4 linked regions of the Homo sapiens genome follow. The protein of the gene in region 2 binds, or shares a complex with, the protein of the main gene of each other region. Each region holds a gene or a part of one and is shown on either strand. Other genes may lie near its edges. The genes, in order: THBD, F2, SERPINA5 and FGG. A codon is read from its position in the direction of its gene.

The links.
Region 1: the proteins of F2 (region 2) and THBD are in contact, whole or in part, in a crystal structure (PDB 1DX5), measured with the Homo sapiens proteins. Residues at the interface, in NP_000497.1 of Homo sapiens: Phe382 (codon at 1,216), Ser385 (codon at 1,207), Pro386 (codon at 1,204), Gln387 (codon at 1,201), Leu423 (codon at 1,093), Arg425 (codon at 1,087), Thr432 (codon at 1,066), Arg433 (codon at 1,063), Tyr434 (codon at 560), Arg436 (codon at 554), Asn437 (codon at 551), Glu439 (codon at 545), Lys440 (codon at 542), Ile441 (codon at 539), Met443 (codon at 533), Lys470 (codon at 452); in NP_000352.1 of Homo sapiens: Ser424 (codon at 1,575), Cys425 (codon at 1,572), Glu426 (codon at 1,569), Cys427 (codon at 1,566), Tyr431 (codon at 1,554), Ile432 (codon at 1,551), Leu433 (codon at 1,548), Asp434 (codon at 1,545), Asp435 (codon at 1,542), Thr440 (codon at 1,527), Asp441 (codon at 1,524), Ile442 (codon at 1,521), Asp443 (codon at 1,518), Glu446 (codon at 1,509), Asn447 (codon at 1,506), Gly449 (codon at 1,500), Phe450 (codon at 1,497), Asp479 (codon at 1,410).
Region 3: the proteins of F2 (region 2) and SERPINA5 are in contact, whole or in part, in a crystal structure (PDB 3B9F), measured with the Homo sapiens proteins. Residues at the interface, in NP_000497.1 of Homo sapiens: Arg383 (codon at 1,213), Pro386 (codon at 1,204), Glu388 (codon at 1,198), Leu389 (codon at 1,195), Leu390 (codon at 1,192), Cys391 (codon at 1,189), His406 (codon at 1,144), Cys407 (codon at 1,141), Tyr410 (codon at 1,132), Pro412 (codon at 1,126), Trp413 (codon at 1,123), Asp414 (codon at 1,120), Lys415 (codon at 1,117), Trp455 (codon at 497), Glu457 (codon at 491), Asn458 (codon at 488), Leu459 (codon at 485), Asn506, Arg541, Ile542, Asp562, Ala563, Cys564, Glu565, Gly566, Asp567, Val588, Ser589, Trp590, Gly591; in NP_000615.3 of Homo sapiens: Gln241, Lys295, Lys296, Arg297, Thr368, Ile369, Phe370, Thr371, Phe372, Arg373, Ser374, Ala375, Arg376, Leu377, Asn378.
Region 4: the proteins of F2 (region 2) and FGG are in contact, whole or in part, in a crystal structure (PDB 2HWL), measured with the Homo sapiens proteins. Residues at the interface, in NP_000497.1 of Homo sapiens: His450 (codon at 512), Pro451 (codon at 509), Arg452 (codon at 506), Arg461 (codon at 479), Arg486 (codon at 404), Ala489 (codon at 395), Ala490 (codon at 392), Leu493, Ile530, Val531, Glu532, Arg533, Cys536, Asp546, Asn547, Met548, Phe549, Cys550, His605, Phe607, Arg608, Leu609, Lys610, Lys611, Trp612, Lys615; in NP_068656.2 of Homo sapiens: Pro439, Ala440, Glu441, Thr442, Glu443, Tyr444, Asp445, Ser446, Leu447, Tyr448.

Annotation. Positions count from the first base shown.
Region 1 is NC_000020.11:23,046,661-23,054,326, forward strand, and holds the start of THBD (thrombomodulin precursor), read right to left. Parts: upstream 3,013-7,666; 5' UTR 2,845-3,012; coding exon 1,117-2,844; 3' UTR 1-1,116. UniProt on the Homo sapiens protein: Endothelial cell receptor that plays a critical role in regulating several physiological processes including hemostasis, coagulation, fibrinolysis, inflammation, and angiogenesis.
Region 2 is NC_000011.10:46,722,205-46,729,224, reverse strand, and holds part of F2 (prothrombin preproprotein), read right to left. Parts: intron 6,046-7,020; coding exon 5,940-6,045; intron 5,844-5,939; coding exon 5,707-5,843; intron 3,367-5,706; coding exon 3,052-3,366; intron 2,728-3,051; coding exon 2,599-2,727; intron 2,515-2,598; coding exon 2,388-2,514; intron 1,230-2,387; coding exon 1,062-1,229; intron 562-1,061; coding exon 388-561; intron 1-387. UniProt on the Homo sapiens protein: Thrombin, which cleaves bonds after Arg and Lys, converts fibrinogen to fibrin and activates factors V, VII, VIII, XIII, and, in complex with thrombomodulin, protein C. Functions in blood homeostasis, inflammation and wound healing.
Region 3 is NC_000014.9:94,576,856-94,584,425, reverse strand, and holds the start of SERPINA5 (plasma serine protease inhibitor preproprotein), read right to left. Parts: upstream 3,001-7,570; 5' UTR 2,936-3,000; intron 2,812-2,935; 5' UTR 2,716-2,811; intron 1-2,715. UniProt on the Homo sapiens protein: Heparin-dependent serine protease inhibitor acting in body fluids and secretions. Inactivates serine proteases by binding irreversibly to their serine activation site. Involved in the regulation of intravascular and extravascular proteolytic activities.
Region 4 is NC_000004.12:154,609,654-154,617,593, forward strand, and holds the start of FGG (fibrinogen gamma chain isoform gamma-B precursor), read right to left. Parts: upstream 3,004-7,940; 5' UTR 2,957-3,003; coding exon 2,879-2,956; intron 2,783-2,878; coding exon 2,738-2,782; intron 2,549-2,737; coding exon 2,365-2,548; intron 2,246-2,364; coding exon 2,152-2,245; intron 545-2,151; coding exon 414-544; intron 111-413; coding exon 1-110. UniProt on the Homo sapiens protein: Together with fibrinogen alpha (FGA) and fibrinogen beta (FGB), polymerizes to form an insoluble fibrin matrix. Has a major function in hemostasis as one of the primary components of blood clots.

The sequences.
Region 1 (7,666 bases), on a different chromosome or scaffold from region 2:
GTTTTATTTTGGTCTACCAGTGACAAGGAACAGTGACAGTCAATTGCTAATTGGCATGAATCATGCAGTTTGAAGCTTTCTTGAACTGTCTCCTGGGAGGTGTTTGTCTCTTCTCTCAATCTAGAGCAACCTTCTGAACATTTTCAACACTGTCAAAAATAAGTAATAATAACAAAAAAGGAAATTGCATAAGAAGATTAGCAACAATTACCATTTTTCAGTACAAATCAAAACAGCAACAAAATTCAGGCTCACTGTTTAAAAGTAAAGATAAATACCTCTTTGGGTGTAATTTCTATGACAGTCCAGCAACATCAATTTAATACCTTTTACATCTCAACCTTTGTTTAAAATTATTTTGCTCTGGGAATCTGAAATTTCAGGATAAATTAGCAAATCTGGTGAAAAAGCAAATGGCCATTTTTATTTTTAGTGTTTTTGTTTCTGTTTCATGTAGGGGTTCTGTCTGAGCAGACAGCTAAGAGCAAAAGAAGTAGGGTCAGGCACAGGTAGGGTGACTCAGGTGAGTTGGCCCAGTTCCTGGGAGGAGAAAACTAGGAAGAATGGGGAATAAGTGGGGCTTGCTTCATAAATGTGAGAGGGCTAGGAAAAAAAAATTCACCAAGATAGTTTACCTGTCACATGACAAGTGGGAGTTTGTAGAGAGAGAGAGACCGGAGAGCTGTGCAAAGTGGATACTGGAGACATACAGGTAAGAACAAAGGAAACAAACAAAAACCTAAATACTTAAAAAAAATAAATATTTTAGTCATCCCTAGCCCACGAGGTCAAGGTCTGCCCAGAAGGCTGCCGACCAATAACGCTCACCCTCCTGCGCCCGGTAGTGAGGACCTGGGACAAATCGCAGTCTGTGTCTTCGTTACAAAATTGCCATCATTGCCCAGTGGTCCAGTGACGTCACGGAAGAGGCCGAGGCTCATTCTCCTCCCTCTAATCACCCCCTCGCCAGTTAGCCATGGAATAGAAGAAAACAGCTTGGGGGGTGCGGGGAGGGTCTTCTCCAGCTGTAATGCCAGCTAAGGTGCTTTGGTAGCAAAGCTGGGGGTGAGGAGGCACAGGCTCCTGGACGGAGCCAGGCTCCTGGACGGAGGCCGCTCAGAGTCTCTGCGGCGTCCGCTCGGTCCGCACGTGCTGCAGCACTACCTCCTTGGAAGGGGCCGCGCACTTGTACTCCATCTTGGCCCTGGCGGCGCCCTGCTTCTTGCGCAGGTGGCAGAGGAGCGCCAAAAGCGCCACCACCAGGCACAGGCTCGCGATGGAGATGCCTATGAGCAAGCCCGAATGCACGAGCCCCACGGCCGGAGGAGTCAAGGTGGAGCCGGGCGTCGGGCTGGGCGGGGGCTCGCCAGAGCCGCTGTCGCCACCGTCCACCTTGCCGGAGTCACAGTCGGTGCCAATGTGGCGGGCAAGGGCCGAGTCGGGCCCGCAGATGCACTCGAAGGTACCGGGGAGGTTGTGGCACACCCCGGAGCAGAAGCCGCCGTTTTCGCACTCGTCGATGTCCGTGCAGATGAAACCGTCGTCCAGGATGTAGCCTTCAGGGCACTCACAGCTAGCCTGGGTGTTGGGGTCGCAGTCGGCTGGACAGGCAGTCTGGTTGCAAAACATCTGGCACCTGTGCGGCTCGTGGGGAATGGGCGCGAAGCCCTCGGCGCAGACGCAGAGGTAGCTAGTTTGGTTCAGGGGCTGGCACTGGTACTCGCAGTTGGCTCTGAAGCACGGGTCCACGGGCTCCACACACTCGCCGTCCACCAGGTCGTAGTTAGGGTAGCAGTGGCACTCGAAGCCACCCTGTGTGTTGACACAGCGCTGCGGACACGGACTGGGCTCCAGTATGCAGTCATCCACGTCCTCGCACCGGTGTTGGTCGGCCGCCAGCCGGTAGCCGGTCTCGCACATGCACGAGTAGGAGCCCGGCTGGTCGGGGTTGGGAACGCAGAAGTGCTCGCAGAGGTCGTTGCAGGACTGCGTCGCGGATGCGGTGCAGGAGCGCCCGTCTGCCTGCAGGGCGGCGCCGGCTGGGCACTGGCAGCGGGGAGCCCCAGGGATCGCATTGCACGCGTGCTCGCAGCCGCCGTTCTCCACGCTGCAGTCCCAAGCGCCCGGCGCCTCCCTGGCCCAGTGCCCCTGGACCGCTCCGGGCGGCGCGGTGCACATTAGCTGTAAGCCGAGGGGAGCCACCGCGGCGGAGCTGCCCACCGGCAGCGCCTGGAAGTCCGCTCCGCGGGCCGCGAACGGGGTGCCGTAGGTGATCGAGACGGCGGCAGCCGCGGCGCCGGGCTCCACAGCCAGTGGCCTGCAGGTGGCTGGGAAGTGGAACTCGCAGAGGAAGCCATCGGCCTTCACTTCGCACTGCTGCTCCTCCCAGATCGGCTCGCTGGGCACAGTGGCCTCAGCAGCGGAGACAGCGACGCACAACGGGCCGCAGAGGGGAGCCCCATTGAGGTCGAGCCGTGCCCACCTGCTATAGCTGGTGTTGTTGTCTCCCGTAACCCACTGGAAGCCGCGCAGGGGCCCGAGGCGCTTGGGGTCGCCGCAGCCGGGTGGCAGCTGCAGGCCGATCCAGAGGCGCCGGCGGCCAACGCCGCCGTCGCCGTTCAGTAGCAAGGAAATGACATCGGCAGCCACCGAGGAGCGCACTGTCATTAGGTGGCCCCGCAGTCCGTCGCAGATCTGACTGGCATTGAGGAAGGTCGCGGGGCCCGGGTAGAGCGCGAAGCAGTCGTGCTCGACGCACTGGCTGCCACCCGGCTGCGGCTCTGCGGGTGCGGGGAACCCCAGGCCGGCCAGGGCCAGCGCGCCAAGGACCAGGACCCCAAGCATGTTACCCAGGCGCGCCGCGTGCAGGCGCCGGGGAAAGCGCGGGCACTGCGACAGGGCCGTGCCGGAGCAGAGGGGCACAGGACGCCGATGGCGACAGCCTCTCCTGTCCGTCCCAGCCCAGACACTTCTTGCCGCTGCGCGCAGCCCCTGCGAGGCAGCCTCTGACATGCGGATCGGCCAGGGCTCGAGTTTATAAGTGCCCGGCCCTCCCTCCCTGGACGTTCGGGAAAAGGAAGGAAGTGCCTGGTGGGAAGGGCTGATGCCGCATACTCGGATTGCTGGGTTCTCTGGCCGCCCTTGCGCCCGCCCTCGCGCATGGGATCACCTCGCCGGGATGAGTAAACCCTGCCCTGGCGCAGGGAGGTTCTCGGGCGGGGCCGACAGGGGCAGGCGCCAGGGAAGGCCAGCACCCCTGTAACAAGACGACTGTCCCCGCCCACCACTCGGGCCCCCACGCGTGCAGCCCTCTTTCATCTCTTGGTCCTCCTTTCTTTCTTTTCATACATGTTACAGCCACTTCCAAGGAAAGCCTGGATTGCAAGAGCTCTGGGAACCGGAGACTTCAGAGAAGAGGGCTTTGAATGGGGAGTGGGGGAGGTGGTGCACAGGACCTGCAAGACGCTGGGAGGGGTGATCGGCACCAAGGGCACTTTGGGAGGACCTGCCTAGGACGTGGACTTCCCCGAAGACAGGATCGCAAGGAGAGACAGCTGGATCCTGTCCGCGGCCAAGGTGCCTGGCTCAGGAAACCAGCGGAGCGCGCTTGGCCTCACAGGACAGTGGGTGTGGCTGGGGTGACGGGGCAGGGTGGGGAAGACTGGCCTAACACCAGCGCCCTCTGCCCCATGGCTGGCCAGGGACCCGCGAGTCCCTGGACACGCACTGGCCAACGCCAGACCCCATCTCATCGGGTGGGGAAGTCGCGGGGACACTGTCAGGGCGCCGAAGTCCGGACCCGGCTCAGAGGCGGTGGCAGGTGAATTGCTGCGGCGCCGGGTAGGGGCGGGCGCGTGGGAGCGAGTCAGCCTGGCCAGTTTCGGCCCAGCTTCCGAAGGATGGTGCTTCTTGCACCCCAACAGAGTGGCTGGCAACCCCCCAGGGGAGCGCGCAGGATCCCAGCTGATCCCACCCGGGTCGGCTAAGGAGGTTTCCATTTCGTCCAGAGTCCGAATTGATACCCACGTGCATAGAAACGCCACTTGCTCGGCAAAGGGCACTGAAGAGCCACCGTCCTGTGGATGGGCAGGGTGGGGGGGGGGCTGGAGGAGGACATGGGAATCCGTCACTTTCGACCTCTTCCGGTGGTTCACTTACCGGGAATGCGGAAGAGTGGGTCTCCCCCTCGGGTCGCCCCCATAATGGTGAGAGGCAAACTGTTTAAAAACACCCTTGCCTCTCTCCTCTACTGTCCTCACAACGAGCGCCAGGGGGCGGCGCTGTCGAGCTCTAAACAAAGCCAAGGAAGTTGGAGAAGTTTCGGGCTAAAAAGGGTTAAGGTGTAGGAGCACAGAGTCCTCCTTCTGGGGTTGGAAGCTCCGTTCCCGGGCAGCTCAGCGTGGATTCCGCTGCGTTCACCTCTTGCCTCCAGGGCCCAGTAGATCCTGGGCTTTAAACAAGAACAGAGAGTATGGCGTCTGCCACGTGCGACAGACACGCACCGGTGGGGTGGGCCGGGCTGGACTGGACTGACCTGCAGTGACCAAACGGGTGGGGCGTGGACACTCTGAAAGTGAAAAAGGCAAGCACGACTGTCCCGCCGCACACTCCCCAGCGCCTTGGGGCAGAGAGCCTCCAAACGTCCCGCTGAGTTGAGCTCTTCGCTGGGAAGGCCGCCCCAGCACCCAGGAAACGAAGGAGCTGCTGGACACGGGGGTCTGAAGCTCCCGGAATGCACACAGCTGCGCCTCCCCTGACGCGGACCCCCTGGGAAGAGGAAGGGAAGAGCGGCAGATAGCACAGTAGGGCTTGTCCGGCGGGAGCAGTCAAGCTGTGGCTGCCTAGGCTGAATCAGGGGGTCGTGACTCCGGTGCACAGCCTGCCTACGCGGGACGCAAAAGCAGGGCTGCCTGCGGTGCCGCCATGGGGGTGAGGGTGGAGCTTCAGATAAGGGCAGGAACCTCGTTGGGGCACTGCTGAAAGGTCTCAGAATGTGGGGACAATTCCCAGAGTGAATGAGACAAGAGAGGGGGACAGGATCGGTTACAGAATCAGAAACCAGTGCAAAGTGAAAATGTGGGGTCCATTGTTCAATTACAAGGATTCAAGACTGTGATAGCAAAGTGTTAAACAAGGAATGAGGCCCTGGGGGGGTGATGAGAGGGCCCTTCTGAACCTGCCAGCCCTAAAAGCCACTGAGGGACATTCAAGGATCAGATCTCACCCCACACCAGGCTGGCTGAGTTCTTGGATGGATTCTAGCTGATTCACCAACACAATGTTTCACTGGACGTCCTACACAGGTCCACTTGCACCCATTGCTGATTCTTGCAAAGAAAAAAAAAGTGTGAGAACAGCCCCAATAGCTGAGTCCACTAAGAACTCAGTGATGTCTGTGAAACTTGGATCAACCCTATATGAGGAGGTGCAGATGTTGGATGTTTCTGTATTAGAAAGAAACTAGAGCAACAACAGATAGAAGCAGAGCATTGTCCCATGGGGGGTACCACAGTGTCTGGGTTGCCCTACACAAGGATGGGTGGACATGACCCACTTGGCTTTCCCACCTGTAAGGGCTTTACCCCTGACCCTCAGGATACCTTTGCCTTGTGGGGCCTGCCCTCAGCCGCTTTGTTTTTCCTCTCCAGCCAATACCTTGGAGGCTTTGCATATTTTAGACTACCTTCTGGTGACTGAAGGTCCCCTGTCTGTGTTCTTGCCCCATCCCTATCTTCCTATCTGTGCCCCCTGCACACCAGGGTGGGCCACTCCTTCCTATCCCTTTGCAGATAACACATCCACTTCCCAATGCTTGGCCCAGTTCCTGGCCCAGCACCCTCACTCTGGCCCACCAGCAGACTTGCTTTACTCCTGAAACAGCTCCCTTGAAGAACACCCATCTGGTCCTAAATACTGTTGCCAAAATCTTGTTTTCAGCCATCCTTCTAGAAGCCTTGGTGCCATTTGCACTTGTGACCCTTCACCATTCTCAAGGCTCCTCCTCCAATTACTTTTGAGACACATGTTTTCCTCCCTTCCTCTCCTGTGAGCCTTGGGGAGGCCCCTGGGATCCTCTTGTACCACCCACTAGAGTGGCCATTCTCAAGGTTTTGCTGGTGGTCTTCATCATCTCTTTACAACCCACCTTTTGGTGAACTTACCCATTCCCCTGGCAGTGATAGCAGTGTCCAAGGAGATTGGGGAGGGAGTATTCTAGAAGGGACCCTTACCCCATCTTTCCCAGTATCAATAGTTGGTCCACTGAGGTTTTAAACCATGCACTTGCCTTTGACTTTCTGCTCTCCTTCATCCACTGCCTAGTTTTTGTGTCTTGTTTCCCCTGATCACTGCTCCTGCCTTCTCAATTTATGCTGAGACAGTTGGGTCCCCAGCTCTTTTCCTTGCTGCTTATCTCTCCAGCTCTCCACCGTGGCTGAGGCTACTCTGATCCTCATACTCCCTCAGTGCTGCTCCCACCCGCTGGGAGAGCCCATACTCTTTCCCCTCCGCACTGAAGATGCTCGCGATAGTGCCTCTACTCTGTGGCCACAGATGAGAAAATTTGCACTCAAGGGGCTATGCTGGAATTTGGACCCAGAGCCTGCACCCCTTGCACCTCACAAGGCTTCAAGGACCAGTGTTCTGCTGGTCTCCATGAATGAGGAAACATCCTGGCAAGGGAGGCTCCTGCTCACTGTCAGAGAAGCACCTTGTCCGCTCATCTCCACCCTGTAGTTCATGTCTCTCCCTCTGCTAGCAACATTCTCGTCTGCCAGGCTCTTCACCCACTGAAATCTTTCCATTCTTTCAAGTCCCAGTTCAAGCTTCCCCATCAGCAAGTTTTCTGAATAACCCAACCAGAACTGATCTGTCTGTGATTCCCATAGACAGGTCGTTCTCTCAGCTCTTTAGTACTCACCACTCCCTCCCTGCCCTGTACCTAATCATGCATATACCACACTTTTTGCTGCACTTATACTCCAGATTCCCACACATTTTTGTATCCCCTTACACCTAACAGCACGCTTTGTAACTAGACAGTGCCCAGAGCTTATTGGAGCACCTGTGGTAGATGTTTCTTTGTCCTCTCCAGGGTGATTTTCTCACATTCACCTGCAAAGACAAGGATGGGGGACCTCAGAGCCTCAGGGTGAATTAAGAGTGTGGACTTTGGAGCCGACTTGGCTGCACTGGAGACCCAGCTCCGGCATTCACAAGTTTTTGTTTATTGTTAAGATTTGACTAATAACCCCTCCCCGTGTAGCTCAGTTTCCTTGACTGTGTAATGGGAATAGTCCCTCCTTCAAAGTGTTAGGATGAAGATTAAATGGGTTATACATGTAAAGCATTTAGAACAGAGGAGCCGTAGTCAGCTCTCAATAAATTTTAGCAAAAAAGAAAACACTCAAGTCCCTAGAATTTGGATTCGGCATCTGATTGTATTCAATATCCAGCATGGTTTCTTTTCCATGGTAGGGACTCACCAAATGTCTGTTGGATTTAATTTGTTCCAGCCAAGCATTTCTACCACTAATAACAATAAGCAATTGTGAAAAAAAATCAGGGATGGAGGCATAGGGAAGAAATTGAAGCATGTCCTGTCTTAGGCTTCCCATCTGCCCTAGAGACATCCATAGTGACTGTCCCCATTGCCCAGGTGTGGAAG
Region 2 (7,020 bases):
GTGAATCACTTGAGGTCAGGGGTTCGAGACCAACCTGGCCGACACGGTGAAACCCACCAGTCTCTACTAAAAATACAAAAATTAGCCTGTAATCCCAGCTACTCAGGAGACTGAGGCAGGAGAGTCGCTTGAACCCAGGAGGTGGGGTTGCAGTGAGCCAAGATCGCACAACTACACTCCAGCCTGGGAGACAAGAGTGGAACTCCGTCAGTAAATAAATAAATATAAATAAAAAATAAAACGCCAGTACTGAAAAGAACTTTTGGGTTCACTCCAAGAAACCGAGGCCTGGAAAAGGGAAAGGGGCTCTTGCAAGGCTACTTGGTATCAGAGCCAGGCCCAGAACTTGGCTTCTGCCCCTCAGCTAACAAGCATCTGGTGGCCCACCTGGCTGCCGTCTCCCTGTCGGGCAGACACACAGGGTGAATGTAGTCACTGAAGGCAACAGGCTTCTTCAGCTTCATCAGGGCAATGTCCCGGTCCAGGTTCTCCCGCCAGTTGTACCTGGGGTGGATGTAGATCTTTTCCAACATGGATATCTTTTCAATGTTTCGCTCGTACCTGCAGAGACCCCAAGAAAGAAATGGAGAAGCTGCAGGTTCACCCAGCAAGGAGCAGGAAACTGCCTGCCCTTGGGGTCTGGGAGACAGTGTGTCCTGCAGGCCACCAGGGAGGGGATAGGGCTGGTTCCTGCCATGGCAGCCCCCTGGGTGTTTCTTCCTGGGCCTAAAGCCGTGCAGGGCTTTGGAGTCAGACAGCCTGGAGGACGGGGACAGGGGCACAGGCTGCACGCCCTAGTCCAGACAGACTCTATTTTCAGAGACTCCCACATGGGCTATATCCTAGTGTTGGAGGGACCAGGAGACAGACGGATTTCTCCCCGCAGCTCCAAGCCTCAGTCAGGACGTGACCAAATGGGCTTTCCAGCAGAGACTGCTGGGATGTTATATTCTGGGGGGTATACAGAACATCCTATGTGTCCCGGAGCCACCAGGGCCCCTCATGATCGCTTTGGAGGACTCAGACCCCTGCCAGACACCCACGGGCCACCAGTTCTGTACCTGGTGCGGGAGTGCTTGCCAATGCGCACCAGAAGGTCATTCTCGGTGAAGTTCTTGTCCCAGGGCGGGTACAGGAGGCAGTGGGCGGCGGTGAGGACCCAGCGGTCACTGATGAGGCTGGCCCCACACAGCAGCTCCTGGGGACTCTTCCGGAAAAGCATCACCTGCCTGGGAGGGGCAGCAGGAAGCATTAGGAGCTGAGGATGAGGGGGCTGCCTCTACACCAGCCCTAGAAGTAACAATCCCAGGTCTAAGAACCCAGCTGGGCAGAGCTGCCTCCGGGGCCCAGATCCAAGCTTGGGCTGGCCGCCTTTGGGGCCTGGAGCCTCCGTGTGATGCTGAGGGGCTGCCTCACACTTTTTTATTTATTTATTTATTTATTTTTGAGACAGGGTCTCACTCTTGTCACCCAGGCTGGAGTGCAATGGTACAGTCACAGCTTACTGAAGCCTCAGCCTCCTGGGCTCAGGCGATCCTCCCGCCTCAGCCTCCTTAGTAGCTGGGACTACAGGGACATGCTGCTACACCTGGCTAATTTTTGCATTTTTAGTAGAGACGGGGTTTTACCATTTTGCCCAGGCTGGCCTCGAACTCCTGCCCTCAAGTGATCTTCCTGTCTTGGCCTCCCAAAGTGCTGGGATTACAGGGGTGAGCCACTGCACCTGACCTGCCTCCTGCTTTTTGCACCCCCTAACTAGGTCCTTCCAGTCCAGAGTTCACATAGCGTAGCACAGCTCTGGAATCAGAAGAACTGGATTCAAACCCATTAGCTGTGCGCGGAGGTGAGCCACCAGCTCCGTCAGTCTCAGCTTTACCATCTGCTTAGAAGTAAAGGACCCATGGGCCGGGTGTGGTGGCTCATGCCTGTAATCCCGGCACTTTGGGAGGCTGAGGCAGGTGGATCACTTGAGGTCAGGAGTTCAAGACCAGCCTGGCCAACATGGTGAAACCCTGTCTCTACTTAAAATACAAAAATTAGCCGGGTGTGGTGGCGCATGTCTGTAAATTCAGCTACTCAGGAGGCTGAGGCAAGAGAATCGTTTGAACCCGGAAGGCAGAAGTTGCAGTGAGCTGAGATCGAGGTAGTGAGCCGAGATTGCAGCACTGCACTCCAGCCTAGGTGACAGAGCAAGACTCCATCTAAGAAACAAAAAAAAAGAAGTAAACAACCCATCTCATGTGGCTGCTGTGTGGAGTTGGTGGGATCCTGGATGCTCAGCTGTTGTCATCTGTAAAGCCCAGGCCTGCAGGCAGGGCCTGAGGGTGGGGGTCCAGCAGCACACCTGCCCCCAGGAGTGAATGGTAGCGCAGGGCTCCAGGACACACCAAGGTGACATGCCGATCTCTGCATCCGAGCCCTCCACAATGCGCCCGTCGATGTAGGATTCCAGGAGCTCTCTTTCGGTTTTGTCCTCCAGCGACTTCTTCTCGAACAGAGGTCGCAGCCCACAGTCTGCAGAGCAAGCCAAGCAGTGAGGGGCAAGTCCTGGCCACCAGCCCCGCAGCCCCGCATCCCCTCGGATGCCCACTACCTCACCTGCCTCTCCCGAGCCAAAGGTCCTCGGATTGAAGAAAGTCTGGTACTCACTGGTGGCGGTACGCCCTTCGATGGCCCTGTCTGAGTCCTCATCCAGCCCATCTCCTGTCTCCTCCTCCACGGCCTCCTCTGTTGGGACCCAGGCACCGGCTGGGACTGGGCTGGGCCATTCCTCACCCATCCCCTAGATCCCCCCAATTCCCCTACGGGCCTTGGAGGCCATTTGGTGCAGAGGTTAAGCGTGCATGCACAGTTGGGCTACTAGGCAATAACCTCCTGGGGCCTCAGTGTACTTATCTGTGAAATGGGCACAGGACCTTACCCCCCACCTGGTTACTGTAAGGCTGTAATGAGCGCACTCAATGAGGTAAGCGTTCGATAAGCAGAAGCGGCTGTTGTTATTCCCACCAGGATTTGTCCCTGCAACTCAGGCCCCCTACCCAGGCAGCTCACCACAATAGTTGAGGTCGCAGTACCCAAAGTCGCCAGGCTTCCCGGCCACATAGCACCACACGCCCTCCTCATCCCCGTCTGGGTTGCGGCAGAAGTTCTCCACCAGCTGCACAGCTGAGTTGAAGTCCTGGTGCTTGCTCAGGGCCTTGGCCTGTGCGCTGGCCCAGGCCAGGCAGGGGAGCCCATGTGTGGTCACCGCCAGGCGCCCCTGGTACTGCTGCCCCCGATCAGGGACACACTGCTCCAATGGAGGTGACAGATTCACACTGGAGCCTTCGGAGCGTGGAGTCATCGCTACAGTGACTTGATCCTGGCCTGGTGGGTGAGGGGCAAGGAGGCAGCAGAGTGAGTGAGACCACACATGGACCGGAACAGACAGGGGTGTGAACCCCGGTCTTGCTGCTTTCTGCCTGTGTGACCTCAGGTTACTTAACCTCTCTGGGCTTCTGACCGTTTGCCTTTAAAGGGGTTACTAATGCCACTTTTGCAGGTTTGTTGAGAGGATTAAACAAAATATACAGCATAAGTGTCTGGCACATAATAAACCAGAGATAGTAACCAGGTTTGGCCTCCTAGGCCATCTGTAATTAACTGGTAGTGGCTGCCTGGAGCTGCTGGAGGAGTCATGTTTTTATAGCTGCACAGCAGGACGCTTGCTGGGATCACTAGGCTGTTCACCTGGATGGGTCAATTTCTGCAAGCCTGCAACTTATTTATCATCAATGTGTGTGCGTGTGTATGGGGGTTGGGGAGTAAATAGTAGCTGTTTTTGTTGGGATAAACTTGCTATAAGACCAATTCCAGGGGCCAGGCGCAGTGGCTTACACCTGTAATCCCAGAACTTTGGGAGGCCGAGCTGGGCAGATCACCGGAGGTCAGGAGTTCAAGATCAGCCAGGCCAACATGAAGAAACCCCGTCTCTACTAAAAATACAAAAATTAGCCAGGCGTGGTGGCGTGTGCCTGTAATCCCAGCTATATGAGAGGCTGAGGCAGAGAATCGCCTGAACCCAGGAGGTGGAGGTTGCAGTGAGCCAAGATTATGCCACTGCACTCCAGCCTGGGTGACAGAGTGAGACTCCATCTCAAAAAAAAAAAAAAAAAAGGCCGGGCGCAGTGCCTCACCCCTGTAATCTCAGCAGTTTGGGAGGCCGAGGCGGGAGGATCACAAGGTCAGGAGTTTGAGATCAGCCTGGCCAACATGGTGAAACCCCGTCTCTACTAACATAAAAAAAAATTAGCCAGGAGTGGTGGCACACGCCTGTAATCCTAGCTACTCAGGAGGCTGAAGCAGGGGAATCGCTTGAACCCAGGAGGCGGAGGTTGCAGTGAGCTGAGATAGGGCCACTGCACTCCAACAGCCTGGGCAAGGGAGTGAGACTCCATCTTAGAAAGAAAAAAAAAAAAGACCAACCCCAGGAATGAGCAATGGGCCCGACAGGGATGCCTAGAGAACAAACACTAACCCATGTTTGTGGACTGGTAATCGGCACAAATTCTTTACCCCTGCCTGCATCCACATCCCTTGCTCTGTGATTTTACAGGCTGAGGTGTAGTTTACCTCTTGACCCTGGCCTTGAACATATACTTGCTCTGGCCAATGGAACGTGGGCAGGGCTGACTGTGCCTGTTCTGAGCCAGGCCTTCAGGACAGAAGACGCTTTTCTGTTCATTGTTTTCTGTGTCTGTCATCAGCATAAGAAGAGTTTTCCCAGGTACCTTCTTTCAGCCTCAGCCCCAGCATGAACGCACGTGGAGCAGATCTAGGCCCAACCCTCAACGAGGAGCCAGACTCAGCTGGACCCATTATTTGAATCAGAGCCACCCAGCCAGGGCCAACCTCCGTCAGTTGACCCTACAGACGCATTAGCGAGTGCAGCCACACCTGCCAACCCTCATGGGAAAAAGAAATGCTTATTGTGGTCTGCCTCAGGGAAGGGGTGGCTATAGCTACTTAACACACCAAGGAAATAATAATGACAGAATCCCGCAGGGCCAAACTGCACAAGGCTTGCTCTGTGATACTCAGAACAGGGTGTGTGGACTGAAATGGCTAGGGAGGGCTTCCCGGAGGGAGGAGTGCCTTGATCAGAAAGGAGGCATGTTTGGAATGAGCCACAGCCTGGACCATAAGGAAGTCAAGAGTGGGGAGGGGGAGGAGGAGGCTGGCAGATCCCCCCACTCAGATCCCCTGATTCCCTGACTTTACTGAGCAATAGGCACAGATATGATCTGAATGACTGACGCCAGCTCTGAAGGTGGCCAGCATCTTTTTTTTTTCTTTGAGACAGAGTTTTGCTCTTGTCGCCCAGGCTGAAGTACAGTGGCAGGATCTCAGCTCACTGCAAACTCCGCCTCCCGGGTTCAAGCGATTCTCGTGCCTCAGCCTCCAGAGTAGTTGGGATTACAGGCGCCCACCACCACGCCTGGCAATTTTTGTATTTTTAGTAGAGACGGGGTTTTGCCATGTTGGCCCAGCTGGTCTCAAACCCCTGACCTCAGGTGATCTGCCTGCCTCAGCCTCCCAAAGTGCTGGGATTACGGGCATGAGCCACTGTGCCTGGGTAGCCAGTATTCTTGGTTCCCATCCCAGGCTGCCAGGCCCCATGAAGCCCCCGGGCCTTGGCCATGGGCCGCCCCACTGCCCCCAGCTTACCACAGACAGGGATGCTGCATTCCTGCCTCCTCACGGTGGGGTCTGTAGTGTAGCACCAGGGTCCCGTGGTGCTGCTGTCGGGGTTGCGGCAGAAATTCTCCTGTAGGTCGGCCCCAGGATGGGTAGTGGAGTTGATTCTGGAACAGGAAATTGCCCAACAGGAGGCTGTTGGGCTTGAGGTACGCTTGCTCCCTGTTCTCAGCCCATGGTGGGAAGGCCGGCCCCTCACTCACTCAGGCTTATGTGGGTAGCGACTCCTCCATAGCTGGCACTCAATGCCTGACCGGGTGATGTTCACATGCCCTCGGTAGTTCGTACCCAGACCCTCAGCACAGTTACCTGCGGAGACCCCACCCCGGTCAGCCTTGGAGCCTGGGGACTTATTTCCTCTCTCCCTGCAAAGTTGTCTATCCCCCACCTCCCAGCTCATGCAGGTCCACAATCCTGAACCTGCATTCACCCAGCCCCTCTTCCTCTGCAACCAGCAGTTCTCCCATTCACTCAACAGTGGCCTCCAAATATTCGCTAAGTGCCTACCATATGACAGGCACTGTCGGGTGCTCAGTACACATCAACCAATAGGACAGTCACAGCCCTGCCCTCATGGAGCTTCCATTCTGTGGCTTCTCTTGGCCAGCAGGATGAAAAAGTGATGAAGGTCCTTTTCAACTGGCCCTGGTCTACCTGTCCCTGCTAGCTCAGCTTCTCATGCCTCTGGGTCTTTCCACGGATTGTTTCTTCTGACTGGAATGCCCACTTGTTTGTTCATCCATGCATCCCACCAGGCCAGGCAGAACTCTGCCTCTCCTGGGAAGCCATCTCTCATTTTTCTGGCAAACCAGACACTCATTTTCCTGTGGTCTCTTGGTGCCTTGAACAGAACTTTTCTTGCAATCACTTTATTGAATTATTTATTTTTATTTATGTATTTTGAGATGAGTCTTGTTCTGTTGCCGAGACTGAAGTGCAGTGGCATGATCTCAGCTCACTGCAACCTCTGCCTCCCAGATTCAAGAAATTCTCCCCCATCAGCCTCCCTAGTAGCTAGGATTACAGGCGCGTGCCACCACACCCCAGCTAATTTTTGTATTTTTAGTAGAGGTTGGGGGTTTCACTATGTTGGCCAGGATGGTCTCAAACCCCTGGCCTGGGCGCCCACCTCAGCTCCCAAAGTGCTAGGATTACAGGCTTGAGCCACCACACCCGGCCGCAATCATTTTAATATTTTGTATTTTTGTTCTCTTTTGAGATTTTGAATTCCTTGAAGGCAGAGACTGTATTTGATTCTCTTAAAATCCCCAGCACCTGATATAG
Region 3 (7,570 bases), on a different chromosome or scaffold from region 2:
AGAAATCTTGCTCCCTCTGGGCCAACTCTCTCTACTTTTCAGTAAAACCACTAATTATTAAAGACATACTAGACACTCCATAAATATTACTATGTTTAACCTTCACCAAAAGTAAGCTCTCTATTTTACAGAGTTTTCCAAAAGTAAACTCACTCTATTTTACAGATTGAATAGACTGAGGCTAAGTGAAGTGGAATAGCTTGTTTCAGCTACTGAGTGATGGAACCGGAATTAAAATCCAGGTTCCTCTGACTCGTGCACAGCCTGTCTCTGAGTGGCTCTGAGGAGTGATACCTCGTTCCTCCTCGACCTCACCTCCTGGTATCCCCAGGCGGTTCACCTGTATTAGCTCATTTATACTTCTCTACAACAACATGGAGTTAGTATCATTATCCTAACAGTGCAGAAGAAACAGAGGGTCAGAGAGGTCACTCAAGAGGCAGTGGAGTCCTCAGTGCTTGTTTTACGTTTCTTAGTTTCAAATCCAGGGTTTGCCATCGCACTCTTGGGCCTCTGGTGGAAATACATGGCTTTGACAGAGACAGGTGAAGCCCTGGGAGCCTCCCATCCCCCAGACCAGCCTCTACTGAGTGCTTTGAAAGCTTGGTTGGGCTGCCCCTCTCCTGGTCCCTGGCTTTAGTGTTTCTGCAGAGGGAAGAGAGAGGATCAGTCATGTTCACCTGTCATCTCAGGCCAAGGTGAATTGAGGTGGGAGGTGGTGGGGATGTGATGGGTAGGCCCTGGTCAGTCTTCCCGCTGGCCCACCACCATCCCCGAAACCCAAATCTGCTGACTGATATTTCCCGTGTTGGGCAGTGAAGTCCTGCCCAGTTCTACCCTGGACTCAGCTGTGGGAATTGTGTTAGTGAGGACGGTCTGTCCAATATCTTCTAATTACAAAAAGGGATGTGAGGCTTGGAGCCCAGGCAGAGATGAGAGACAAAGTCACAGCTTCCTCTAGATCCTAAAGACCCAGGAACAGAACTTCCCAGAAGAAGTAATCTTGACTTCCTGTTCCACTCCAGCCCATCAGCAAAGCTTGTCCGTTCTATCTCCAAAACAGGTCTTAAAGCTGCCGCCTTTCCCTGGCTTTCTTACTGCCCCCAGTGGAAGCTCCCTTCATCTCCCCCAGGGCTACCCCAGTAGCTTCCTTTCTTTGCCCTGAAAGGCTTTCTATATACAGCATATAAAAGAATCTCCTTCAATCATAAATATGGTCACAGCGCTTCCTCGCCTAAGAAACTCATGGCCAACTCCTGTGTTTCAGATAAATGCTAAACTTTGATTTGTGCTCTAACCCACTAGGGCTGCTGTGACCTGGCTGCACCTGGCCTGGACCTGCTCTGCCCTGGATCACGTGATACCCCCAGGCTCACTCTTCTTTTCCCAGTTTCTCAAACACAGCAAGTTCTGTCCTAACTCTGGGCCTTTGCATACCTTCCCTCTCTACTGGAACCCTCCCCCAACCTTTCTCACTGAGGCCAACTTCTGCATAGGCTGCAGGCTTTTGCTTAAATGTCACTTCTTTGCAATACCTTATCACACTGGACCTTTTCCCCTTCCATGGCTATTCTCTGGAACAGTCCCTTGACTCTTTCTCTCAAAGCTCTTTCAATTACACATGTGCCTTTATATATGCATTTGTCATTGACATTTTTCATTCCGGCCTCTCTCTCCATGGGACCCTCATTTGTGCTGCTCTCACCTTCAAGAGCTTGCAGTCAGGAGAGATGCTCCATAAACCTTTGTAGAATGAATGAATGAATGAACTGACCAGTCTCCTTCTCTGTAATTCAGAGACATTAGACTGCAAGCTGGACACTGAGCAGTGGAAAAAGCCAGGCTGGCCACCCAGAGCTGAGCTCTCCCCGCCCCGGAGCTCACTTGCCAGGTGACCTTGAACAACTCCCTCCCTGTCTCTCAGCTCTGGCTTCCTATTATTTCTTTATTAAAACCACTTGATTGAGACATGACTGCTATTCATAAAGTTGCACATATTTAATGTCTATAACCTGACAAGTTTGGAGATGAGTCTACATCTGTCACTTATCATCACCGTCAGCACCATGAACACGTCCGTTACCTTCAGGCATCTGCCGCCTGTATTCTTCATGCTTCGGTTTCCTGATCTATGAGCAAGGACACTGGCCCAAGGAAGCAGTTTGCTCTTTTATTGCTGCATATCTGGCCAAAAGCCCTACCTTCAGAAAAACTAAAAATTCTGCTTACTTTATTTCTACATTTTGTTCATTTAACAAACTGCCAAATTGTTACTGTCCTTCATGAGCAGCTGCCATGACCGGCCTGGGTGGCAGCCTCCAGGCAAGATGCCCTTATCTCACGGAAGCCGATAATATTGGATCATTGTTCCTGATTTCTAAAGGCCCAAGACTCCAGGCACAGAAAACAACAGAAGCTGCCACTTACTGAGCACCTCCTATCCAGCCGACATTTTGTCCCCATGGCCTTATTTCAGGGTCTCTCAACCTTGATCCTGTTGACCTTTTGAACAGGATGATGCTTTGTGATCTTGTCCTGGGCATTGTGGGATCATCAGCAGCATCGCTGGCCTCTAGATGTCACTAACCCCCACCCCCCTTCCAGTTGTGGCAACCAAATGTGTCTGCAGACATGGCCAGATGTGCTGAGTGAGAGCACCCGCTGTATTTAATCTTCAGTCACACCATCCAGAGGGTGTAATTATTTCCATCTTACCTATGAGGAAACGGAGGCTCTGCCAGAGTTAGTGTGGAGCATAAGGTCACAGAGCTCGGGGGACCCACTCACCTCTGCTGCCTTGGATACCTGAAACTGCAGAGATGAGACTCCTTCAGAGCTTTGCAGACCCCAAACCCCAAAACTCTAGAGTCCATCCTCTCCTCGCCTCACATGCCCTCAAGCCCTGGGGACCTCCCTTTGCGGCATCGGTACTTACTGTGTCCCGTAGCTGAGTGTGCACACAGTGGAGGTGGCAGTCCCTCGGGCTCAGAAAGGGCAGAGGGCTGGCTGGATTGCAGCCAGCATTTGTCACTGACCACAGCCGGCCCTGTCTCCACCCCTCCCTGGCCCCGCCCCGGGACAGCCCCTTCCTTTCCTGGCAGGTTTCCGGCCAGCAGGCCTGCCTGCAGACGCAGCTCCCTGATCCCGAGGCTTTCACCACGATGCCCACTCGCTGCCCCCCAAGCCTTACACCACCAGCTGGGCCATCATTTTCCTGGAATGGCATGGGCACTCCTGAGAGACAAGACCAAAGAGCCTCCCTATTGTTGGCATTCCAGAGACAGGGAAAGGGACAGCTCTAGCAAACCCTCTCTTTTTCCAGGTTCTATTCCTTGGTTTTCTGCAGCTAATTTCTTGTAGATTAGGGGGGGCATATGCTTGAACCTGAGAGCTCCCCACAGGCCTGCTATGCTGACTGGGTCATAGATCCCAACAGTTAGATTCTAGTGGAAATGAGAGGGATTGAGAGACTCACCATGCCTGCAATGAATGGGTCACTGTAGCCAAGCCTGTGATTGCACCAATCACTGAATTGGGGCTCAGAAGAATGAGGGGAATTTTCAAAGTCATGCATTTAATTAGGGGCAGAGTGGGGTTGGTGCATAAGTGGCTGACTCCCAGGCCAGTGCTTGTTGCTGAGAAAGGAGTGGATTCAGGATTTCTATGGGCTTGGGTAGATTCTCCCTTTCTACTTTGAAATCCTGGTTCCCTAACTCAGCCATACACTCTTAAGAGCATTTCCAAGACACCGGTGCAGAGTGCTGTCTCAAGCCTGGTTATGTTTCTAAGGTCCCCTTGCCTGGGGGACATGGTGTGTTGTGCATGGCCGTGATCATGGAAGGTTATGTGGCTGCAGGTGGGGTGTGGAGTTGGTAGAGCAAATCAGAGGTAATACCTGGAAAGTGATTTTGATGTTCAGCAAACACTGTCCATCGACAACCTTTAAGACATTTCCTCTTCCTTCTTCATGGCTTTGGGGCCCAATTATGTGGCTGTTGGATATCCACAGAAATAATAAGAACTAGTATTTATTCACACTTTTAAAAAGACCACCTACTACACCAAGTGCTTTAAACGCATTATCTTTTTTCATCCTTACAATAACCCTTCAAGGGAGACACTGATCTCAGCCCAGTCTAGAGATGAGCACTGGGTATCTAGAGCTAAGTCCAGCTACTACTACATCTCTAGAAGCAAGCACAATACCTACTGGGTATCTAGAGGAAACACAATCACTACTGGGTATCTAGAACCAGGCATGATCACTTCTGGGTATCCAGAAGCAGGCAGGATCACTACTGTAGGATATCCAGAAACAGGCGGGATTGCTACTGTAGGATATCCAGAAACAGGCAGGATCACTACTGTAGGATATCCAGAAACAGGTGGGATTGCTACTGTAGGATATCCAGAAACAGGCGGCAGGATCACTACTGGGTATCCAGAGGCAAGTCCCACTACTACTAGGTATTGAGACCTTAGTTTTTGCTCAGTGCCCTCACAGTTCATTCCCATTGAATTGGAGAGAAGACAGAACACAGCAGGTCAGGGAATCAGCCCCTAATCCCACAGTTAGTAAGAAGAGGCTCTAACAAGGGAACCTGAGTCCCTCTTTTTCTAGGTTTGGCTTTCTTCCCATTATGCCATGTAACATGAGCAAGAGTCCATTATCTCATTGACCTAGAGATCCCTAAACCGTACCTACAGGATGGAAATCAGCACTGCATACCAGTTATGGGTGAGTAATGGAACCCCGAAGTTATCCGTGTCCTAATACCCAGAACCTGTGAATGTTATCGTTCTATGACAAAAGGGACTTTGCAGATGTGATTAAGTTAAGGATCTTGAAGAGATTGTCATGGATTATCCAGCTGGGTCCTAATTACAATCACAAGGATCCTTGCAAGAAAGAGGCAGGAGATTGGAGTCAGAAGAAGGTGATGTGATGGTAGAAGCAGGAAGGGAAAAGTCAATGTGATGTCGGAGCCAGGTGCCAAGGAGTGAGGAAGCTTCTAGAAGCTGGAGAGGGAAAGGAATGGATCCTCCCCTAGAGCCTCCAGAAAGAGTGGAGCCCTGCCAATATCCTCATTCTAGCCCAGTGAGGCCTCTGGCCTCTTCAACCATGAAAGAAGAATTTTGTGTTGTCTGAGCCACTGTTTGTGATAACTTCTTAGAGCAGCCATCAGAAACTAGTGTAACACCGCCCAAATGGGTTCCAGATGAAACTACTTTGGGAAAGGTGGTTAGCCCACCTTTCCTGTGGGCCGTCTCCAGCCTGTGTGTGCTGTCTGTGCTCTGACCACCCACGAGGGAAAGACATCACATGCCGTTTCCCAAGCTTACATCTTAAGGAATGTCTTGAGAATTTGGGGGAAAGTCTGAGGTAACTCATGACTCCCACTGCCATGCAGAAAGAGCTCTGAAGGAATCAGGACTGAGGGTGGTGCGTTTTGAAAGGAGAGATTTGGAAGGAGTCTCGGGGGCATGGCACCCCAGTGTATCAGTCTTCTCTGGCTGCTGTAACAAAATACCTCACACTGGCCTGGCTTAAACACACACTGGATGTCTTAAACAATAGAAATGTATTTTCTTACAGTTCTGGACGCTGGAAATCCAAGGTCAAGGTGCCGTCAGGGTTGGTCTCTGGTGAGGGCTCTCTGGCACTTATAGATGGTTGCCTTCACTCTGTTCGCCCATGACCTCTTCCCTGTGAGCCCACACTGGACACACACACACACACACACACATACACACACACACACCCCCCAAGAGAGGGATTGGGCAGAGGAAGAGAGCGAGCTCTCTGATTACTCTTCCTCTTCTTAAAAGGGCACCAATCTTATCAGATTAGAGTGCCACCCTTATAACCTTATTTAACTTTAATTACCTCCCTAAAAGCCCAATCTCTACAGTCACACTGAGGGCTAAAACTTCAACATAAGAATTTGCGGGAGAAGCAATTCAGTCCATAACACCCAGGGTGACTGCCTAGGGAGGGCCAGTGGCTAGAATATGAGAATTTGGTGTCCTAGAGCCTAGCAGGGCATGGGAAAGGATCAAAGTGGGGAGGTGGTTTCTGGGAGAAGGGCAGGGAAACCAATGTTGGCCCCTGTGATGCCTTGCCCTGCTGAGCACAGGTGCTCCTCTGCTTGGCCCTCAGCCTCCCTGCCCTCTGTTCCATGGTATTGGGCCTCATGGGGATTGAGTGAGACCAGTTCAAGAGCCTACAAGATGTCACTCAGGGCCTGGCTGATGCTTCTGCTCTGAAGTGGGGCACTGGTCTTAATTACTAGTAGGGTGACCAACCATTCCAATTTGCTGGGACTGAGTAATTTCCGATGGTGTGGGATATTCAGTGCTAAAACTGGCAAAGACCTTGGCAAACTGGGATGAGTTGGCTACTCGAGTCATTAGGCTCTTGCCTTGTTCTGGGATCCAGCTTCTAGCTCCTGATCTAGGTCTTGTGTCTTAATAACTTTCCCATTTTTCTTATCTTCTCTTCTCAGTCTTTGTGGGGCTGTCAATCTTGCCTTAAACATCTGCTATGATCCTCCTGTAATCAGCCACCATGCTTCCCTCTGCCCATCATCTGTTTGCCTGCATGAGCTAAAGCATACTGGTACTACCTTTCTTCTACCATCCTTCCTTCCTTCCTTCCTTCCTTCCTTCCTTCCTTCCTTCCTTCCATCCATCCACCCATATATTCATCCATTCATCCATCCATCCATCCATCCATCCATCCATTCATCCATCCACCCATCCATCTATCCATTTTTCCATCCATCCATCTATCCATCCATCCATCCATCCATCCATCCATCCATCCATTTATCCATCCACCCATCCTTATAGCCTTCTATCCATCCTTCCTTCATTTCATCCCTCCAGTATCAATGTTTATTGAGATCTAACCATGTCCCAGAAAATACCCCTGGCCTCAAGAAGAGAGATCAATATCTCAATAGATGAACTAAAGATAGAGAGTCGATGCTCTGACACATGTCTCCACAATAAAGACACACAGGGAGGAATGGTCCATTCTCCCGTGGTTGGAGAGAGGAATGGAATAGGAAAAGCTTTGTGAAGGTGGTGACCTTGGATCTGGGTTTTTGAACCTTGTCTAGGTTTTTATCAGCCCTGGCTGGGTGGAGAGGAGTGAACAGACAGAATAGCTTACAGCACAGCAGTGGGAGGCTGCATTTTGGGCTGAGAGAACCACAGGAGTGATAGCAGTACAGGCTAAGGGGGTGGTGGGGCACCGGGAGCCCATCAGAGAGGAGGAAGGGAGGACAGAGAGAAGCCAGATCAGGGCCAGATGGAGGGCTTGGAAGTCCTGCTGGGTTGGGAACCAGGGTTGAACTTCATTCTGTAAGTAAAGGAGGGATAAATTATCTTGGGCTGTCACGGGTATGGTCACCTGGAGATCAAGACAGGACCAAGTGACACTGCTGTGATAATCCAAGCGAGAGATGATGGTGGTGTGGGCCAAGGAAGCGGGGGTGAGGCTGGAGAGGAGGAGACACATTAAGGAAGGAGAATGGACCTGGTGTGAGCTGAGGGGTAGGTTTTG
Region 4 (7,940 bases), on a different chromosome or scaffold from region 2:
TCCAGACCCATCGATTTCACAGTAGACTAAGAATTGCTGGTTAGCTTTCAGAGGTTTAATAAAGTAAAGCCCGCTCTGTTTAGCTCCCTTATTGGCAATGTCTTGACAATCTAGAGAAGGAGAATCGACTTTTACTGTGGTTTGAAATGCAGGTAAGACTGTGCCAGCCTTGAAAAATAGCTTTTAACATGTAGTAAACTATTCATTTTCCAAGAATAATTTTCTTACTTTTCACATCAGCATTCCTTTTAAACTGTTTTTTTTAGCTATTCAAGAAAGGTCTAGACAACTGAAATTCTTAGACTTAATGGGTAGCCACTTTCTAAACTATTCCTATACTTTCCAGTACATACTTTCTCCTTTACATTACTTACTTTGATGAACCTAATCCCAATATAACCTTCATCAGTTACCTTTCCCAGTGATATCATGGATTTGCACCGTGTCTTTGCAAGGTTCCTGGCACTGTGCTTCAAGCTGGGCTACCTTCTCTTTCAGGTTAACAATCTTTTGATTATTTGAATTATATATTTCCTGCAAATATCTACAAACAGAAACATAAGATAACAAAAATAAGAAGACAAAAATAAGTATTCCTTTCAGAAGAGTAATTTTATATTTTCTTTGGAAACTGCTAAGTATTTTCTTAAGAAGTGCTTTCTGATAAATTATTCCATTCTTGAGGAAAATGTAAAATTATATTACTAAATTAACATGAATTAAAATTATAAACTTTTTGAAAAAGAAAAACAAATCAAAAAATCAATTAAAACAGGAATACAATGTGGACCTGAATCTTTTTACTTAGAATGGGGCATATTGTCTCAACTCCCAACACAAATAACAAAGTCCTTGTCAATAAGCAAATGTCATTGACATTTTGCTTTTTACTTTATGCATAAGGGACAGCAGATAGCAACCTGCAAGAGTGGCGGGACTGGTTAATAGGAACACCCCCTGATGCTTTAGAAGCAGGAAAAGCTCAGTTCAGTAATTCACATGTGCTGAAGGAGTATACCTTTCACTTGTGGATCTACTGAGGCTATACATATAAGCTTCAATCTAAAATATAACTTACACAGGGACATGATCTGGAACGTTATTGTATGTAAAATAAAACAACAGATACTTCCCCTTTCTTCTTTAATGCTTCTGGTTACATAGCTTTGGGAATGGACTGGGGGAAGTAAAAACCCTCCTTTTGTAGTTACTTACAGGGTGGCTTGCAAATATCCAAAAATGATAGAAAACTGTCTACAATGCATAAACCGTTCTTTCTTTGAAGTAAAAAAGGGTAGACAAACTATTTGTCCACGTTTTCCCTCTACCTTGTCTTAGGCAATTTCTGTACAATAACCTCCTTCAACTTCAATGATGGACAATAATAATGCAAGTAATAATAATAACAATAATAACAAGGGCCCTCTGATAGCAAAAAGAGGAGAAATCTTTCCTGGGCCACTTCTCCCTAGCTACTATTTATCTCAATTTCTCAAGCTGCTTTGAGAAAAATTCAGAAAAAAAAATTGGGGAAAAATATTAAAACTGTATCTGAGACCTTATGTTCAGAAAGTTTATGAGTCCCTGAGAAGCTTTAACAGAGACATTCACTTCCAAATGAAGGGAAGAGACTATGCAGGTTCATTCTGCAATGATCAATATGAGCTTTGCAATATTTGCCACACTTAGTCTCTCAAGACATGTTTCTTCCTGCTCCACATTCAATATAATTTACTTTAGGAGCCAAAATCCTTACTATGCCTCTGCTTGCTAATTTTTTTAACCACCAATTTGTCAGCATTTTTATAAAGAGGATTTTATTTTCAACACCCAAATTCCTATGAGATTGATTTTATGTTGTAAGATAAATGGGGGATGGGGAAAAAATTTTTGATAAATATGGTCAAACTAGCATTTGAAGACATCTAGAACATCTTTCTTCAATGTGATTATTAATAAGCAATTATAACCCAGTATAATTTATATTGCACTAAAAACTTCTATCTCTACTATGCTCAACATAATCAGGCATAATGTCACTGGGATATTATAAATGGGGAAAACACATTAAAAATTACTTTCACTCAAGTATAGAATATTAAATAAAAACTAAATCAGTCTTGCAGAGCAAATTAAAACAAAAATCCTTACCGAATACTTGAGTCATGTGTTAAAATCGATGCTTCATATTTCATAATTTCTTCTAACATTTTCCTGGACTTCAAAGTAGCAGCGTCTATCATATCTGTAATATAGGATCAGAGACATAAAAATCCTTAAGCAAATAGAACAACTAAAACAACAGCAAAAGAACTTCACAGATTATTATTATTATTTTTTGGTCAGTAGTCTTTATTTTCTCACTTGGTTTTGATGATTCATCAGGATTATAAGTGAGTTGGATTGCTTTTATCAGCTGTTTGACTTCTGATGTTTTGTTTTCAACTTGATGTAAGATGTCTTCCAAAGACTGTAGATCCTTGTCTACTTTGGTTTGATAAGTAGACAGGAAATCTGCAATGCCACAGGTAGTTGGACAATAACTACCCTGAAAATATAACAGTGATTAAAAATGTAGACAGATGCTACTCTTAAAATCTATTAAGAAAAATAGGTAAAACCTAGACTATGTTTTTAAAAAGTTACAAGTGCCAGATGATATTTATGAGGGAATTATTTCTATTCCTCTGCCCCTCTCCAGTTCACACACAAAGGGAGAAACATAAAAACTACTTACGAATCTTTCATCTAAGATGCAGCAGTTGTCTCTGGTAGCAACATACTAAAAGAGAAAAAATACAGAAATTTCACTAGTTTATTATCTGTTTTATTTTCCAGCTTTCCATTTTAAACAACGTTTTGTGAAGAGCACACTTACTGCTACACATGTTGAAGAGAGAAATAAAAGAGCATAGAAGTAGAGAATTAAATTCCGGGGGTGCAAGGACCAACTCATGATGTCTGAGTGCCCGGAGCTCCGAGCCTTGTAGTGTCAGCACTGTCACCTCTCAGGCTCCAATTGTCCCTTTATGTAAGCTCCTGGGATAGCCAGGACTGCAAATGGCTGGAGCTGATCACGGGGCCTCCTTACCAGAAGGGTGGGCAGGTCTTTCCCGTTCCTTTTTCCTCATCCTGGCCCCCAACCTATACTGTCAGGTTCCCAGATTTTGCACACAGGTTGAAGCTCCTCCTTTTTGGCCCAGCTCAAGGTTTTTTCTCTGATCCAAAATTATCTGCAAAGGCTAGTGAAGCATTATCCATTGCTGTGAGGAGGAGGGCAGTCCTGGAGGCTGTGTGATGCAACTTCTTCCAGTACATGGCTGAGAGCAAACAGATATGACCTCGAACTAAGCAAACCTAGTCTATCCTTAAGATGGGTCCTGCTGCCATCACCTGAATTACCAAAAGAACTTTCTTAGCTTAGGGATCAGTTAACACTATTATTTTAGCCTAGGGATCAGTTAACATTATTATTTTTAATCTGTGGCTGTGGCAGGAGGAGACTGACTTCCCCCATGTCCCAGTTCACTATTCCCAGGAATGAATGACCCTGGAAATACATTCCTGTCCCTCTGTGTCAACCATGTTCATAGGCTCTCACTTCTCAGGGAGCTTTTGAGCTCAATCTTCCCTTTGTCTGAAGGTGGGCATGGCACCCCATCTGCCACAGAGAAAAGAGCCAGGAGCCCACTTCATTGTTCCTGTGGTTCCATCAAGCTATCTCAGAGAAGAGAAAAATCCACCTCCCTTGTATCTAAGGAGAGTAGAGGCATAGCTGAAGGAAGGGGCAAAATGAGGTGCTGGGGAGGGGCCATCATTTCTGTTTGGCCCTTACAGCATCCTTGTGTTTGGGAAAACATGTCTGTCATCACTGCCTATTGAGATTTATCACTGGGCGTTACACTATTATTAATGTCTCTATTTTTGGTTATCCCTCATTTCTTCCTCTGGAACCAAGCTTATTATAAGTTTTGATGAAATATGTTAGTGGGAGAAATGCCTCCAGTTTGAAAGAAATACTAATACTTTAATTCTGTCTTTACAAAGGTATATTTATTGACTCAAAAACAAAGATAAATATTCATATTCAGTAAATAATCAATAATTATAACAAAGTGAACACATCAAAACCAGATTTGTTGCTTTTCTTCTCCTCCTTAATATATCCCTCTCTGACTTAGCAGTTATTGTCAATCATATCACCATACCACCAGCCAATTAAGTCTCACAATCTTTCTCATCCATCTTTTCCACTCAGCTAATCAGTTGTCAATCAAGTCAGTTGAATTAAACATTTAAGTATTAGTATTCTTTCAAACAGCTCTACCTCAGATAGCATTTGTAGCAACCTTATATTATATGTATACATGCTGTATCCACTGCATTAGATTGTAAACTGATTTCTGTGGCTACGGCATCTAACATATATAGCTGTACTTAACATAGTTGTAGTTAACACTCAATAACTATGTAATGACTTGAATCAGTTGCCTCTGTGAAGAAGAATGGGATGCAGAGGTGGAGGACAGGATTGGAAAAAAAGGCTTTATTTTTCTCTGTAAACTTTCTATATTTAGAATGTTGAATGTATATAAATATTATCTACTAAAATATATATAATGAAAATATGTAATTATTGATCATTCACAAAGATTTACATAGTACACTGATAATTACATCTTGCTAACTTTTTAATATGATTTGAACATGAAAGGTGACTCAGGCATTGCCTTTGCCTTCAAGAAGTGTGTAGCTCAATTGGAGAATGTATAAATAAATAGTTGTTAAGGCTCTGGAGTCCATCTCCCTAGGTTTGAGTCCCATCTTTACAATTTACTGGCTGTGTGATTCAGTACAAGTTACTCAATCTCCTTGAGTTCCATTATCCATGTCAGTAAAAGAGAGATAATACTTATGATATGGTATTTACTTAATAGGGCTATTACTAAGATTTAGTGGGATAATGTGTTGAGCACATTACCCAATTCATGGTAAGTGTTAAGTAAATGTTTGTAAGGTTTATGAATTACCAAATATATTTGGTATAAAATCTATGTAAATAGGAAACTCTTTTAATAGAGCTATTATTGGTAGATTTGGTTCACAGGGAACAAGCTTTGTTGTTCTAGCTACAGAAATTCTCTTTAATAAAAAATCTGTTGCAACTAACTGCAGTCTCCTTCTGTAAGATTCCCCAGAGAAGAAAGCACCTGGTCGTTTAGTTTAGGAAATTCTATCCAAATTGATTTTACCAATCAAAGATCAAATGATAATATAAATGGATTGCATGCCTTGTGAGAAGGTATACTTCCTATCTGTAAGAATGTTCAAGCAAAGTGTGTTTAGACAGAGCATGTCTTTGTGGTTCTTTTTGCTGAAGACCATAAAATATTAGTTTGTTGAATTTAGGGTAACAATTCATGCAGCCACAGGTTGGGTTCTGAGCTCCTTAATGTCATAAAGTTTCATTGGTTGTGTTAAGATATATAATATTCACAAAGTTGATAAACATTTAAATTGAGGACATTAGAAATTCTATCTTATCCCATTTTAGAAGTGGAATACTTGTATTACAGGCTTTTAACTGACTTATATTGGAATCCAGATGTGTTATCACAATTTTAGAGAAAATAATTTCCTTTTACTACAATCTCAAGTCCTAAATCCAAATCATATAAGACAAGATGCTTGCTCTCTGAGAAAAAAAAATGGTCAACAGTGATTTAGCGGTCTACATTGGCCCTGCATTCAATCTAGTATCACTTAGGTTTATTAAATTTTAACTAGTTTTTTCATGTTTGGGCCAATTTTTTCTTTGAAAAATGATAAATGATTGATGAATTCCAGGAATGAAGAATGTTTCTTAAATCACAGTTCTTCTACTTCCAGGTATGTTTTTTGAGATAATAGCATAGGTAGTATTTAAGCCAAAATAATCATTTACTGTAACTCTGAGGTCAGTGGGCTTGTTTATTGAAATAATAATGTCCCAAATTCCCTATCGTCCAACCGTTTGTGTTCTGATTTGAAAACACAAATCTACAGCTAACAGTCTTCGTGTATATTGGTAATTTACTCTGTGAGCCAAGTCTGTTACATTCATCTTTGCTCCAAAATTATTTGCTGAATTTAAATTTGATTATGTAGAAGACTTCTTGACCTAGTGACAAATGATATAGCCCTAAGGAATAATAGAAAGAACTACCAATTTTGAGCATCTTCTTTATGCTAGATATTATGTGGTAGTATAGTTTTTGTTGTCATGTATATTCTCTCATTTAATCCTCACCACAAGCCTAGGAAGTAGATATAATTACCTGTATCTTATAATGAAAAAAGAAAGGCCTAGAGATGTTGTGTAACATATGCAGGGTCAGTGTGCCAGAACAGGAACTCAAACCCATGGGGCCCAATGCCTGTGCTCTTAACCATGAATCTTAATACAACCATGAAGCCCTTCTTAATTTAAAATAATACACAGATACAAGGTGTTATGAGACTCAAAGTTATTCACTGATAGAATGGATTTTAAAGATGTGTGTGTGCATCTACATAACTGTGTGCATGATTATTTGAACACACATTTACATCTATCTACCAACTTATCTATCTTCTTCTCTGGGTTAGAGACAAGATTTTGTGAATGATCTTTTACAGTCTTTGAGTATTTCTCAAACCTAGATTTGTGTTGTTTTATGATTAGCTTGTGTTTATGGTCCTTTTTTTTTTTTCTCTCTCTTTAGAGATGCAGCCTAGCTTTGTTGCTCAGTCTGGCCTCAAACTGAACTGCTGGGCCCAAGTGATCCTCTTGCCTCAGCCTCCTGAGTAGCTCGGACTATGGGCACGTGCCAATGCACCTGGCTTCAGTCCAATTTTAGATGGAAGCAGTTTTTCAATGCTAACTGCATGGTTCAAGTTTAATAGGACTTGATAAATTGAATTCCATCAGTAAGTTAAAGGGAGAGACAGCCACTGCGTGGTCAAGGAAGCTCAAATCAATGGCGACAATGATATATCTGTTTTTCTAACAAGTAAACCATTTCTAGATCTAAGCTAAATTTATAGCCTGAACCCTCAGAACTGGATTTCCTAAAAACTGGCAGAAAGAAAATGACCTATTGGCATACTGAAAGCCAGTCCAACCTAATAGTAAAAATATCCCATTAAGGGCAACAGAGTTGTCTGTTAGAATATTTGCTTTGTGTATAAAAATAGCCCAGGGAAAGTGAAAACGCAAAAGTTTCTTGGTAGTCTGTGAACAATGTGCTTTTAGTTTCACTATGTAAATCAAAGACAAAAACAACATTGGGCACAAGTAAAATGGACTCCCTCACTGGCAGCAGAACAGCACCCACAGGTTGAGTTTTGCACTTCTTAACTTCATAAAGTTTCATTACATGTGTCATTTGGGGGATCTGTCCTAGCGGCAGGGATGTTGAAAAATCTCTGCTGTGATTGGAATTTAGGAAATAAAGTACTGGGTGCCTAGAGAAAGAAGGATTATCCCATTGGCAATTACAGAGGCCAAAGAGGCTGGAAATTAGCCATTTTTAATACTAGTTTGAGACTAAGGAATGATCTGAGGTGCCCTGGATTGAGACAAATTGAACAGAGAAGTTGGATTTAAGTGTTTTGCTGTGCCACATTGGTATCTGCTACTGGTTTGTTTGTGTTTTTCCATCTTTGTGTAATCTACGATTTTAAATCTCTCACCCCATGAAAGAATTTTCATGACTAAATATGATTAGCAGGAGATTTACAAGAGCAAATGAGTTTGGGGGGAAAAATAAACCACCACCAACCAAGGGGCCAAGTTATATTCACAAGAATGTGCTCCGGAAAGAAGAAACTTTTTAAGCCTTTGAGTAGAAATACTGGCCTATGTTGAAAGTGGACAGGCCCCTGTTTGAGAAAAACTGTAGTTATTTTGTCATATAAAC